4 linked regions of the Homo sapiens genome follow. The protein of the gene in region 1 purifies or fractionates together with the protein of each later gene. This does not show direct contact. Each region holds a gene or a part of one and is shown in the gene's direction. Other genes may lie near its edges.

What was found.
Region 2: the proteins of SUSD4 (region 1) and CNTNAP3 purify together in Homo sapiens (affinity purification with mass spectrometry; 3 studies listed by BioGRID and IntAct, with this or other methods). This does not show direct contact.
Region 3: the proteins of SUSD4 (region 1) and ARSB purify together in Homo sapiens (affinity purification with mass spectrometry; 3 studies listed by BioGRID and IntAct, with this or other methods). This does not show direct contact.
Region 4: the proteins of SUSD4 (region 1) and FRAS1 purify together in Homo sapiens (affinity purification with mass spectrometry; 3 studies listed by BioGRID and IntAct, with this or other methods). This does not show direct contact.

The regions. Positions count from the first base shown.
Region 1 is NC_000001.11:223,221,177-223,224,676, reverse strand, and holds part of SUSD4 (sushi domain-containing protein 4 isoform a precursor), read left to right. Parts: intron 1-1,045; coding exon 1,046-1,428; intron 1,429-2,456; coding exon 2,457-2,485; 3' UTR 2,486-3,500. UniProt on the Homo sapiens protein: Acts as a complement inhibitor by disrupting the formation of the classical C3 convertase.
Region 2 is NC_000009.12:39,096,168-39,099,667, reverse strand, and holds part of CNTNAP3 (contactin-associated protein-like 3 isoform 1 precursor), read left to right. Parts: intron 1-3,500.
Region 3 is NC_000005.10:78,782,811-78,786,310, reverse strand, and holds part of ARSB (arylsulfatase B isoform 1 precursor), read left to right. Parts: intron 1-2,813; exon of another isoform or gene 2,814-2,994; intron 2,995-3,500. UniProt on the Homo sapiens protein: Removes sulfate groups from chondroitin-4-sulfate (C4S) and regulates its degradation. Involved in the regulation of cell adhesion, cell migration and invasion in colonic epithelium.
Region 4 is NC_000004.12:78,473,323-78,476,822, forward strand, and holds part of FRAS1 (extracellular matrix organizing protein FRAS1 isoform 1 precursor), read left to right. Parts: intron 1-115; coding exon 116-275; intron 276-2,115; coding exon 2,116-2,284; intron 2,285-3,500. UniProt on the Homo sapiens protein: Involved in extracellular matrix organization. Required for the regulation of epidermal-basement membrane adhesion responsible for proper organogenesis during embryonic development. Involved in brain organization and function.

The DNA.
Region 1 (3,500 bases):
CACGTGAGGGAGCCCTGCAGACATGCAGACTCACTTTGCCGCCGCTCCTGGAGCCCTCACACCAGCAACCCGGGCCTTGCTTAGAAGAGTGGCGGGGGGTCAGGAGGTGGCGGTGAGCCTGCGTAGCTTGAACGGGGTAGTGACATAGTGCTCACAGCTTTCCTTTTTTTTCCTTCTTTCCTTTTTCTTTTTCTTTTTTTAAATCTAGACTAAAATGTAATGATTTTTATACTGAATGCAGAAAACAACAAAGAAACATGATGAGCATAGGGCCAGCTAGTCCCTCTGGGCACTGAGGGTCCACAGTTACTGTTTTTTGTTTGTTTGTTTGTTTGTTTATGAGACAACATCTCGCTCTGTTACCCAGGCTGGAGTGCAGTGGTGCGATCATGGCTCACTGCAGCCTCAAACTCCTGGGCTCCAGGGATCCTCCTGCCTCAGCCTCTTGAATAGCTAGGGCTACAGGCACGTGCCACCACATGTGGCTAACATTTTTATTTTTTGTATAGGCAGGGTTTCACTATGTTGCCCAGGCTGGTCTCAAACTCCTGGGCTCAAGCAAAACCTCCCAAAGTGCTGGGATTGCAGGTGTGAGCCACCACACCTGACCTATTTTCTGTACTTTTAACAGTGCTATCCCACTTTCAATCCCATCCTACAGGACACTTCAGAGGTGCACTGGGCTGCTCTGTTAGAAAGGGTTATGTTGTCCCTTGCTCCATGAGCTTATGGCCAGAAGGCCAAAGCCCACAGGTCAAAGGAGCAAGGGAAAAAGCATGAGGAGATAGTAAGGCCCAGAGGCAGGAGGACACGAGAGAGTGACAAAAAGAAAACCTCCTCTCTCCGGAGCATGGGCAGCCGGGATGGCAGCATCATCTTCCAGAGGAGTCCCTGAAAGGAGGCTGGTTCTTCCATATTATCCTCCATACGGGACTCTGCTGCCCATCGTGGGTCCTGAGGACCCCGAGTGCAGGAGGGAGTATGGGTGGCCTCATCCCCAGAGTGGCATGGCTCTCACATGTTGGCACTTCTTTCCTTTACACAGGGGGCCTCCCCGGAGTTCCAGCAGTGACCCTGACTTTGTGGTGGTAGACGGCGTGCCCGTCATGCTCCCGTCCTATGACGAAGCTGTGAGTGGCGGCTTGAGTGCCTTAGGCCCCGGGTACATGGCCTCTGTGGGCCAGGGCTGCCCCTTACCCGTGGACGACCAGAGCCCCCCAGCATACCCCGGCTCAGGGGACACGGACACAGGCCCAGGGGAGTCAGAAACCTGTGACAGCGTCTCAGGCTCTTCTGAGCTGCTCCAAAGTCTGTATTCACCTCCCAGGTGCCAAGAGAGCACCCACCCTGCTTCGGACAACCCTGACATAATTGCCAGCACGGCAGAGGAGGTGGCATCCACCAGCCCAGGCATCGACATTGCAGATGGTAAGTGCTTGCCCCAGGGCCCAAGCCACACCTGCAAACACCTCCGCACCAGCATCTTCAAGCCAGCTCCTTGCTACGCACGCTCCACCCCCCAGCACAGAGTCGAATCAATCTGTTTACCTCTCACTCAGCTTAAATTGCTTCATGCTCTCTCTCCATGTAGAGGCCTTGGGCAAGGCCAATTATTGTAGGGAATGATCATCATCTTGCAAGTAATGAGCCCATTAATGGAAATTTCAAGAGGCACCAAAAGGCATCGAGCCATCCAGAGTAGAAAGGCAGCAGTGGCCGGTGCTTCATTTTTGTGGTGTCTGTATGATCTGGAATGTATTTCTTCTTTATTCCTTAATTAGATAGGACTCCTGGAAGTGGGGCTTAGGGACAGGATGGCACATACATGCCAGGAAGAAGGATCCAGAGGCACGCACTAGGGCCCAGCAGTGTGTTCTAGCCCCAGAGTTCTGTGTACATAGAAGTTATTTTTACCAGATGTGAAGTAAAAGATGCATGTGTACCTGTCACAAGGAAGGGTAGATTCATGGTAAAATAAGGAAAATGTGTCAGATTGATTAGGTCTCTGTTTCCTACAGAAGGGGAGCCCCAGTGCCACTTTGCAAATGAGAGCACTAATTTGGCTTATATTGAGAGTAAATGGCAGTAATGACGTGGAAACAGAGGTCTCCTGGGCCACCACAGTGTTCCTTTTCTGCAAACCACGCTGCCTTTCTGTACTTGAATTTGCAACTTTCTGGCTTGTGTGACCATTAAGGCCTATGGTTAAAATGTAACATTTTATTTTTTATGAACTGGAAATAAGATCATAATTGTTTCCTGGCAAAGAACAATTGTTACAGAAAGATGTTGTATAGGAGGTTGATTTATTTGGTTATTAACTGGTATGTGGAACTTAACATTTTCTTCTCCTCACTGATTTGAGAAACTGTAGATATTTTAATGAGGCATATAATTCCAGATCGTCATGGTGTTTTCTGGTTATGTTAAGCTAATAACCGTCTCTTCTTTTACAGAGATTCCTCTAATGGAAGAAGATCCCTAATATGGGTCAAGATCCAGATGACTCTCCTGCTCCTTCGGGGAAAGGACCTTGTATCTTGGAGTGAGGTCACAGAAGGATAGAGCCTGGGGGCAAAATGTCTAACTTGTCTACATGGGGACCACAGTTCACATTATGCATCTCAGGCTCCACAGTGAGGCTGACAAACTGCAATGGCAGTGCTTTTAAATGAGATTTGAGGATTCACCAAGACCCATGGGGAACCGGGGCAGCAGGGAAGCCCTCGCGTGGTCTTGGATGAGGGGTGTTAAATGTGTATCGTGCTGTGGAACATGGGACAATTCCACGCACATCCCACCGAATCATCACGCATCCCATTGACTGGCAAGTACTCCCCGCCCCCTCTGAAAGCATGTCACATCATGTAAATTTGCTTCTAACATCTGCTTCAAACTGTCTCTGGACTCCAAATTTGGATGGGTCAGCCTCTGCAGAAAGTTTGTGTTGAGATGCTGGAAGAACAGCAGAGCCTCCTGCACCCTCAGCAAGGGACCAGCTCCCAAAGGAAAGGTCCTTGTGTGACATTTGGAGAATCTTCCTTCATCCAGACAACTCTACTCGAAGCAAGACGAAAGCAGGATGTGGCAGTTGCAGTGAGAAAGGAAAGGAAAGATGGGCAGACTCTGCTTTCTGGAAATTTCTTCACAAAGTAGAGCTCATGAACTCTGTGCTGTCTTCTGGTAACATATCATCAGTGTTTGTATTCATGGTGTGGCACATGGATCCATGGCATTGGGTAAATCTGGTGGTTTTTACACATGGTCAGAATGTGTTCAAATACATCTCATGATGGAGACAGTAACCAAGGTAATGTTTTGTTTCAGCATTTTAAAAAGACTCCACTTAACATTTATCTCAGAATCATGAGCCTCTCTCTAGTTGACAATTGTCATTGTTCCCCCAGCCCCAAATTGAACCATACATTTATTTTCCAAAACAGAAATTGTTTCTGTAAACATATCCGACCTTCAAAAGAAGTGTGAGGTTGGATTTTTCC
Region 2 (3,500 bases), on another chromosome or scaffold:
CAATGCTAATCCTCTTGAAATAATTTGGTTTTCAAAACTCTGTCCTTGTACTGTTCTAATTTTAACATCAGTAAACCATCATTGTTATTTTTGTTTTTAATTTTTAGAGACAACGTATTGCTATTCAAGCCTCTCTGTTGCCCAGGCTGGACTTGAACTCCTAGGCTTGAGCAATCGTCTTACCCATTGTCCCTTGTGACAATGACTTGAAGTGATTCAAAAGGCCTTTATAGAAATGTCTTTTCTTATAAAACAAGCATACTAACTAGAAGGGGAAAATAATATTTAAATATTGACAGTCATTAACAGGATCACTCAAACACTGTGCTCTATGATGTTTGACTCTTCTTAGAGGAGTGCAGTGGGGTATCACACAGCTTCTGCTCAGGTACAATCATGTTTTCAAAAGAAAAGGGCTGGGCGTGGTGGCTCATGCCTGTAATCCCAGCACTTTGGGAGGCCAAGGCAGGCGGATCACGAGGTCAGGAATTCAAGACCAGCCTGGCCAACATGGTGAAACCTCATCTTTACTAAAAATACAAAAATTAGCCGGGCATCCCAGCTACTCGGGAGGCTGAGGCAGGAGAATTGCTTGAACCCGGGAGGCAGAGGTTGCAGTGAGTAGAGATCGCACCACTGCACTCACTCCTGGGCGGCAGAGTGAGACTCCGTCTTGGGGAAAAAAAAAAAAAAGAAAAGGAAAAAGGGACTGATTTTAGTATTAAGTACTCTGTACTGACTTATTTAATATATTTATAATACTTTTATGAAACCTCTTACAATATTGAATCATCAGAGCTAAAATGTAGTTGTGTTTTTAAGTGTCTCTGGGCTGTTACACTTACTATTTTTAGCAGCAAAACAGGCTTTAATCACTATAAAATTGTGTGACTTTCAAAAAAATTTTGAGGATTCATTATCTAGAAGTCATTTAAATTTTCAAAAGGTCTTGCATGTGTCTTTTATCATTCCTGAAGATCTCTGTGCTAACAAATCTCATAGCTCTGGTGCAAATACAGAGCCCTTTTTATATCTCAAGCCAACATCAGGAGTAACCACTCCTTCATGAGCACAAGTGCTGATTTCTAAATCATTCCCAATCCACATTTGCTAAGTGCAATTTGAATGTTATTTTATAACCCAAAATTTTCTTAAGGATAGACATTATATAGTAAGTAAATGGAAAATGGTCCTCCAGTGGCTGGGGCATATGTTATAGTTAGATTACCTAATCTAATAAGAATGATCTGGATTTTCAGTAAATTCTTTATATTTTATGGAAATGGAAAGAGTGGAGTAGTATTCCAAGACAATGATCATCACCCAACATTGTCTTTTTATTTACAGATATATTTGGGGGGTGTGTGTATGTGTATGTGTGTACTAAACACATTTTTGGAATTAACTTGATATAAAATTAAAATATCAACCTTTCATAAAGTGTTTTAAGAGAATCTGAAAGCCCTTCAACTTTTCTCTCTCAGAATACTGTAGATACCACTTTGGATTAGCCTTTCTATCCAGACAGTAAATTTGAGAAACATCTTTGGCATAAAAGAACATTTCTAAATTCTGACCTTGAAGGAGGGTTGGTCTTCAAATCACCTTTTCTCTAGTTACTTCAGGAGCTCTGTTTCATGCTTCCTACAAAGCAAATCGATTTTTAAAGAGGAGGTAACATTCAAATAAAAAACCTGGTACTCTGGCATTTCCAGGCTGGCCACATAAGGAGCTCTGTAAACCCTCTCTCATACGAAACAAGCATAACTAGTAAAAATTATTATTTTAAAAAACAACTATTGAAAGTCTTTAGAAGATGTCCTAAGGAAATACATCAAATGAAGAAACATTTATTAATCAGTAATAATAGTGAGAGTTTGAGGCATTTAAGCCAAGACCCTCTCCCAGCACCTCCCCATCCCTAGCTCAGTATGACGGAAGCTCCACTCTATATGGATATAGCCAAGAAGCCAGAGGTTTCCTCTCTACCCAGGTCCTACTCCAGAGATACTGCATTACCCCAAGATTGGGTGCCAGCATTTCTTGTCATCCCCAGTTTTGTAGGACAGAAGCTCTGTCCACGCAGAAACAGCTGAGAAGTCTGGGGTTTCCTTCCTACACCAACTCCTCATTCCAGGACATAAGGTCTTCAGGTGTGGCAGCTGGAAAATCCTGTGTCCCAATTGCCCTCACTCCAGCTTACTTGTAAGGAACAGTTTCTCCACCAGGAGAGGCAAGGCAAGAAGTTACCTTTCCCACCCTGTGCCCTACTTGTAAGCAGAGGTTTTACTACAAAGGAGCAGGCCACTCTCACTCCCCACAGCTTCAGAGCAGTGAGGCACATTCAACCAAGAGGTAGAGGGAGGCCATGAAAATACACAGCTTGGTAGCCCTCCCCAAGTGAACTGATTTCTATTTGGAACAGAGGATGGATAAGTTTAAGCATAGTGGTATGAAGATATTGGCAGTAAGCAATTAAGAGAATTTTGATAACTCCAAGAGAGTAATGAGTTAAGCCAGGGAAGTTTAACAGAGAAAAGAAAAAAGAGTCAGCAAACTTGAAGCAAGATCAATAGAGATTATGTATCCTGAAGAATACAGAGAAATAATAATGAAAAAAATAGATCATCAGAGAAATATCAGACATAACTAAGCACACCAATATATACGTAATTGAAAATACCAGGAGAGAGAGAAAGGATCAGAAAAAAATATTTGAAAAATAATGGTTGAAAACACCCCCAAATTAATAAAAATCATTAATCTAAGATACAGAAACTCAGTGAAATACAGATGACACAAAGAAGTTTATATCCAGACACATCTTATTAAAAACTTTGAAAGCCAAAGTCAAGAAGGAAATTTTAAAAGCAGTAAGAGAAAAATCATATATACAAGGAAACGCCAGGATCAACAGCTACCTTCTAATCTGAAAGAATGGAGGCCACAGGACAGTGAGATAACATATTCAAAGAGATGAAAGAAAACTATTGTCATGAAGAAACTTACACCCAGCAAAACCGTCTTTCATGTTCAGTAGCACAGGATGACTATAGTTAACAATAATTTATTGTATATTTCAAAATAACTAGAAGAGTGGAACTGGAATGTTCCTAACAAAAAGAAATGATAAATGTTTAAGGTGATGGATATCTCAGTTACCCTGATTTGATCATTACACATTGTTTGGTTGTATCAAAATATTACCTCTACCCCATAAATAACGTACAACTATTAGGTATTCATAAAAACTAAAAATTAAAAAAGATAGTAAATATATCCCTACTTACAAAAAACAGAGAATTCACTGCTATTAGCCTGCATTAGAGGAAATAACAAAGAACGTTCCTTCAGGTTGAAGGGATATAACCCAGACAATAATCTGAATCTACACACAAAAAACAAATAGCACTAATAAAGGTAAGTGTGCAGGTAATTATAAAAGAAAGTATAATGTCATATTTCTTACCCTTTTCAGTGCTTAACTATTTTAAAAAGCA
Region 3 (3,500 bases), on another chromosome or scaffold:
AAAATGAATGAACCTTGAGAACATTATGCCAAGTGAAAGAAGCCAGACACGAAAGGCCACATATTGTCTGATCCTATTTATATAAAATGTCCAGAATAGGTAAATCCAGAGCACAAAGTGGGTTAAGGGTTGCCTAGGGCTGGAGGGTGTGGGAGTAAATGGGGATTAACTGCCAATGGTGCAGGGTTTCTTTCTGGGGTGATAAAAATGTTCTAAAATATGTTACAGTGATGGTTATACAACTTTGTGAATATATCATACTAAAAACCATAGAATTTTACACTAAAAATGGGTGAATTTGATCATATGTGAACTATATGATATACTCTTTAAAAAATATATTTAAATTCCTCTTATGTCTCCCTATTGATTAGAAGGAAAAGTTGCCACCTCTCTGACCCTTCTTCTGCAGCCACATCTCCCTCTGACCATAATCAAGAAGTACTCCTTGCATTTATGAACTCATGTCATTAGATCGGGCCCATCCAGATAAATCTGAGATAATCCTCACATCTTACAGGTCTTACCTATAATCATACCTGCAGAGTCCCTTATGGCATGGAAGGTGATGTATTCATAGGTTCTGGGAGATTAGGATGTTGACATTTTGAGGAACCATTATCCTGCCTATCATACCCTGTTTTATACTTCTTTCTATTGCATAAGAGTCTCACACATGTTGACAGATGGATGGAAAAAATATATTATGCAGGTACTAACAGCAGCAACAATGACAGCTAAAAACTGAGCTATCTATACATCAGATAAAGTAGATTTAAAGGAGGAAAGCACTATTAGAATTAAAGAGGGAGTTTTCAAAATAATTATCCAGTCATAGAAGAGATTTTTAACATACCTCTCTCAGTAACTGATAGAACAAGCAAACAAACAAAAATGTCCATAAAGATATAAAAGATTTGAACACCATAGTTAACAAACTTGACCTAAATGATATACAGAGCATTGAGCCCAACAACTTCAGACTACATGTTTTTTACATTGGTGCTTGGATAATTCATAGTCCGTATTAGAAATGAAAATGTTGAATATCTGTTATTCAAAAGGTTATAAAAAAAATAACAAATTAAGCCCAAAGAAAATAAAAGGAGGGAAATAATAAAGATAAAAGAAGTTAATGAAATAGAAAACAAACATACTACAGATAGGATCTACAAGGCCAAAAGTTTGTTGTTTGAAAAGACCAATAAAATCAGGCCAGGTGCGGTGACTCACGCCTGTAATCCCAGCACTTTGGGAGGCCAAGGCGGGCGGATCATGAGGTCAGGAGTTCCAGACCAGCCTGGCCAACATGGTGAAACTCTGTCTCTACTAAAAATACAAAAAATTAGCTGGGCATGGTGGCATGCACCTGTAATCCCAGCTACTCAGGAGGCTGAGGCAGGAGAATTGCTTGAACTCCAGAGGCAGAGGTTGCAGTGAGCCAAGATCGCACCACTGCACTCCAGCCTGGGTGACAGAGCAAGACTCCATCTAAAAAAAAAAAAAAAAAAAGACTAATAAAATCAATTAAACACTAGCAAAACGTATCTTGGGAAAAAATGAAAAGCATGAATTGCCAATATCAGGAATAAACAGGCAATATTACTACAGATGCTACAAACATTTAAAAGATAATACAAAACAAAAGTTCACATGTACTACACAAATTCCTAATAAAATACAAGTTATCAAAACTGACAAAGGGAGAAATAGAAGATCTAAATGGTCCTATACCTGCTCAGGAAATTAAATCAATAATTTCAAACCTTCCCACAAAGAAAACTCTAGGCCTAGATGGCTTTACCAACAAACTCTTTTTTGTGGATGAATAGTATTCCATTGTGTCTATATATCACATTTTCTTTATCCATTCATCTATTGATGGACACTTAGGTTGATTCCATATCTTGACTATTATAAATAGTGTTGCAATAAACATGGAGGTGCAGGTAACCCTTTAGTATACCGATTTCCTTTCGTTTGGATAAATACCTAGTGGTGGGATTACTGCACTGTATGGTAGTTCTATTTTTAATTTTTTGAGGAACCTCCATACTGTCTTCCATAATACCTTTACTAATTTACACTCCCACCAACAGTACACACATACATTTTTAAAGCATAAAACAGTGCTATATATTATCCCTTGGCACATATGTATTCTGCATTTTAAAATGGCTGAAGGATGCACTGAAGTCACAATAGCAGCAGCCTCTAGAGGAGTAAATGAAAGGACAGGGTTTGAGGATAAGAACAAAGGAGACTTCAACTTCATTTTTATTGTCCAGTTTCTTTTATTTTTTTTAAAAAAAGGCAAACATGGTAAAATGTTAACATCTGTTCATTTTGGGTGATGGCTCATAGGGTGTTAGTCATATTATTCTTTGTAATTTTCCCTTTGTTTAATTTCTCAAAATGAAAACAATAAAGTCAAGATAATAGTATCTTTCATAGTTTAGTCTTAGGCTTATTTATTGTTTAGGTATTTTATGTTCCTGTTTGTCTTAAGAAAAAAATGTGTATAAATATAAGTATAGATGAGATAGTTAAATTTCCTTTTTTTGTTTGTGTTCACAAAACATGCTTGTTTTATTTAACATTCTTTGGTATCAAAATGTGGCCTTCATACAAACTTGTGAGGAGTAAACCATGAGGGTTCACAGTTTTACCACAGTCTGTATGTTAGCAACCATTTCCTGTGATAGACATGCTCATGCACCTCAAGTACTAGAAGTATCCATTTGTATTGGAGCCAAAATATCCGCAAGCAGAGAAACAAGAAGTCAAAAATATTTTCCTCTTTGGTGCTAAAGATTTGCTGCTGTGTGATTGTTGAGACTGAAGTTCTGAAAGCACCAGTGTTTGCCGGATCTGTCTCCAGCTTGTCTCTACAAGGTCATTTCCAAAAGACTGTCAAAAGAATGGCATGTCCCGCCTTTTCCACCACCGACACACCCTGCATGAAAACCCCAGGAGCACAGAAGTCCTGCTTGGGTGAGGATAAGGGCTCTCTCAAAGTCTATTATCGAAGGAAGGCAGACAGATGGGTTAACCACTCCAATGGAGTCTATACTTTTACAGACATATCACATATTATGACAATTAATTATTAGGCTGGTGGTTCAGCAACCTTTCGAAGTGATCCCAAGATGATTGCTGTGACCATATTTGAAAAGCTAACAGATAAATGTGGGCTTAAAACAGACTATATGTTATTCAGCTAGGCCTCAACCATAGGCATAAGTAGGAGTGAGGTGAGGGCCCTTGTGGACCCACCAGGGTCTTCCACAAGAGTAGAACTCTTGCCTTGTTCACTCCTTTCATAATCAGGCAAAGGAAGGAGTTATTCAAAAGGAGGAACTGAGCATGTTCAACCGAGACCCTTTTTGCTGTCCAATTTCCAGCCAGCCTGTCACCTGGATATATGTAAGCACTCTGGTCTGCTCTTGGCTGTGTGCTCTAAGGGAGCCCACTGGGTGTTCAGCAAGATCAATGGTGAG
Region 4 (3,500 bases), on another chromosome or scaffold:
AAATAAGTTTTGTCTGTAATACATTAGAAGAATAAACTAGGTTTGTTGGTGTGGTAATCTATGAAGCTGTCGTTACATCCCTGGGTTAATTCACAGTGAGTCTTTTTTCTCACAGAGGATGTGAACTTGGGGTTGATTCGTTATGTGTTGCACAAGGAGAAGATCCGTGAGATGATGGATAGTTTTCAGTTTCTGGTGAAAGACAGTAAACCCAATGTGGTCAGCGACAATGTCTTCCATATCCAGTGGTCACTCATCAGCTTTAAATATACCAGGTACAAGTTTTACTGTGCTTTCCTTCTTGAGAAATCAATCAGGCAAGCAGAGGGAGTCAGGATGAAGGATGCTGGGGGGCAGCTCTAGTCACCTCTTGATGGCGGTGATGGTGATGATGGCAGTGATAAAAGTAATAATTTCACCAAATATTTATTGAGTACTGTATGTATTAGGTGCTGCACTAGGACTCGACATGCATCATCTTATATAATACTTGGAATTCTGAGATGAATTCCATTCCTGTCTCCACAGTGGCAAAGTAATAGAGACAGAAACTTGTTTATGTAACTTGTCCACAGTCACATAGCTAATAAGAAGTAAGACCAGGATGTAAGCCCAGTGATCTTAACGATGTGCTCTACTGCTGCTCAGACAAATGTTTTTGCTTCTGTCTCTTCAAGTTTTAGAAGAGAGTCTAGTAGAACTGATAGGAAAAATAAAAATAGGCATTCAAGTTTGGAAAATAATCACTGGCCCACACTATCAATATCTTCACCTTCCATCTGTATTCTCCTTGTTCCCAACCCTGTTTTCTCCCCTGGCTTCTTTGGGTTTGGTAGGAATGTATATCTGTAGGGCTAAATGCATGGCTTAATGTGGACAGCCCTTTAAGATGCTTTTCTAATCTGTTGGAGAGTTAGAAAGGCAAACAGAGAGATACTGATTGTTAAAGGTAGTGTGCAAGCATGGTGCTGATTTTATAGGTTAGATTATAACTAGGATTATAATTTATGTGGGGGAAATATTCTTTAAGTCTACATTTCAGAGACTCACTATCCAAGAAATCAACTTCATGAAAATTCAGATAAAAATTGGAACTTGGGGGAAAAAAGGAAGACTTAAAACCTTGATTTCATGTGCCCCAAATTCAGGCTATTCTACTCTTACACACATTTGGAGAATTAGAGGAAAATTAGAATCAACTTTTACATATGTAATGTTTTGCTGTTATTTACCTCTCAATTGTATCACCTTCAAAATTCAATAAATTCAATAAAATTCATCCCTTTTTCTGGACAACCCTCTAACATTTAATGGACTAAGTGGTATAGACGGTCCCAAAGCTGGCAATGAGGACTGAGCTCTCAGAGTCACTTTCCCTGCTGTCCTCACAGCAACAAGACATGCACCCAGGTCTAGGGGCCATCCTCAGTGGTGAAAAACAAAGCCCAGCTCATGCCCTACTTTCTGTGGCCTTTCCAAACCTAGATACTTATTATGAATCAATAGCATATGAATAGTTGGCCTTCTACTTTACAAATGCAATAGAGATTCTGAGCAGCAAGCTAAATTAATCATGTCCTTCCCCCATTGTCATAAAGTTCTATTTGTCTAAACATCTCTGTTATGTAGGCTTACCTCACATTTTCTTACCTCTGCTTCTGCTCTGACTCCATCACACAGTTCCTGGAGATCTGGTCCAGTCAGTTCCCACCTAAGTCATTGATTGCCTTCAGAGCAGCTTTCTTCCCTAAGAACCCACTGACCTATTGTGATTACTCAACCCCAGGAGGGAGAGATTGTTTTTCCTTTCTCTGTGCCCTGAAATCTGAAGTTCATTGCTCCTATGTGCTGTCCATCTCCCAAAATGACTCTTAGCTTGCTTGCAAAGCAGGGAAGACGACATTCTGCATCCACAGCTTCCCTGTTTGTTTCGTGCTCTGATTGTTCAGGTGAACTCATTCCCTCAATTTACAGCCTGGATTCTTAGAGGAACCAAACTTCCTCTTCTCTGACTACCTAATGCCAAGAACCAAATGGAAGAGACAGGCATTAAACAAGTTGTTTTTTCATAACCATGGGGCATAGTTTAAGAGATGCCTTTTTGTGTGCTTCCAGCTACAATGTCAGTGAGAAGGCAGGGTCTGTCAGTGTCACGGTGCAGAGGACTGGGAACCTGAACCAATATGCCATCGTCCTGTGTCGCACCGAGCAAGGCACCGCCAGCTCCAGCTCCAGGGTCAGCTCCCAACCTGGGCAACAGGACTATGTAGAGTATGCTGGCCAGGTAGGTGGGGTAGTGGGGTTGGGGGAGGCTCCAGCAAGGGCTGTGACATGGCTGCAAGCAATTGTGGCACTTTCCTACTTCTTCCCAACTTTGCTTTTCACTGGTGTCCTTCTTCAAGTATTAAATAGTTTTCCTATGTTCCCCTCCCATAGTACTTTGTTCTTCACAGTCTCTCTAACCTCCATTGAAGTTTTAACTGCCAAAGGGGAAGTTGTTGTCTAGCTTCTCAGTCTTTACATTTTGCTTCATGACAAAAAGAAGTCTCCAAGCATCATGTTCTATATTCAGCTTTGGTATCCCAACCGTTCTTCTCCTCTCACCTTCTTTACCTAAAGGGAGAGAAGAGAGTGTGTAAGGAGACTGGTTGGGAATCCCTTGGGGTAGGCTGGCTGAGATGATGGGAGCTTGGGCTTCGATTATGAAGTGAAGTTTGAGAGAAGCGGATGGATTTGACAGATGAGTGAGAATTGATAGGATTTGGCAGTGGATTGATTAGACAGTGGGGCCATTTGAAAGATGGATGATGATGCCTCTTGCTAGGAAGGGACATATAAGAGGAGCCGGTTGGGCAAGGTTTGGTGCTCGTGACTTTGCTTTGGCTATGTTAGGTATAAATTGTCTTAGAAAGAGCAGGTTGACCACTGTATAGATGGGCAGGCAGTGCAGAGAGGAGTCTGGTGTCCAGAGAGAAATTTGCAAGTCATCTACATACCAGTGGTAATTAAAGGTGGCAATGAGAAAGAAAAAGGAGAGAGTGAAAGTGGAAGAGAAAGGAGGACTTAAATAGTCAACTTAAATAGTCAACAAATACAGGGCCCCATGTATTTGTCATCTTTTATGGAGGGCACAATGTCTGACACTTAATTTTTTTTTCAAAGCAACTTTATTGTTATTATGGCAACACAGATCTCTGTAAAGAGAAGTGGGCTCTGTTCTTTAATTGAGGCATTTCAGCTGGACTAAGCTAATGTCTCTAATGTCAAATGTAAGTGAGGAATTAGGAAAGAACAGATAAGCTAATGTCTTTCAGCTAAATGATAAGACGGAGGATATTCTTGTGTTTTTCAGGGAAAGACAGAAGACTGTCAGTGTATTCTAGATCTTACATAAAGATCTGTTGAGTGTTTCATTTCACTGGGAGTGTTTTAAAATATGAAGCTTAATAAAAGTGTTATTAGTTGATTAGATATATACTAATAATTTTCTGTTTGAGTAA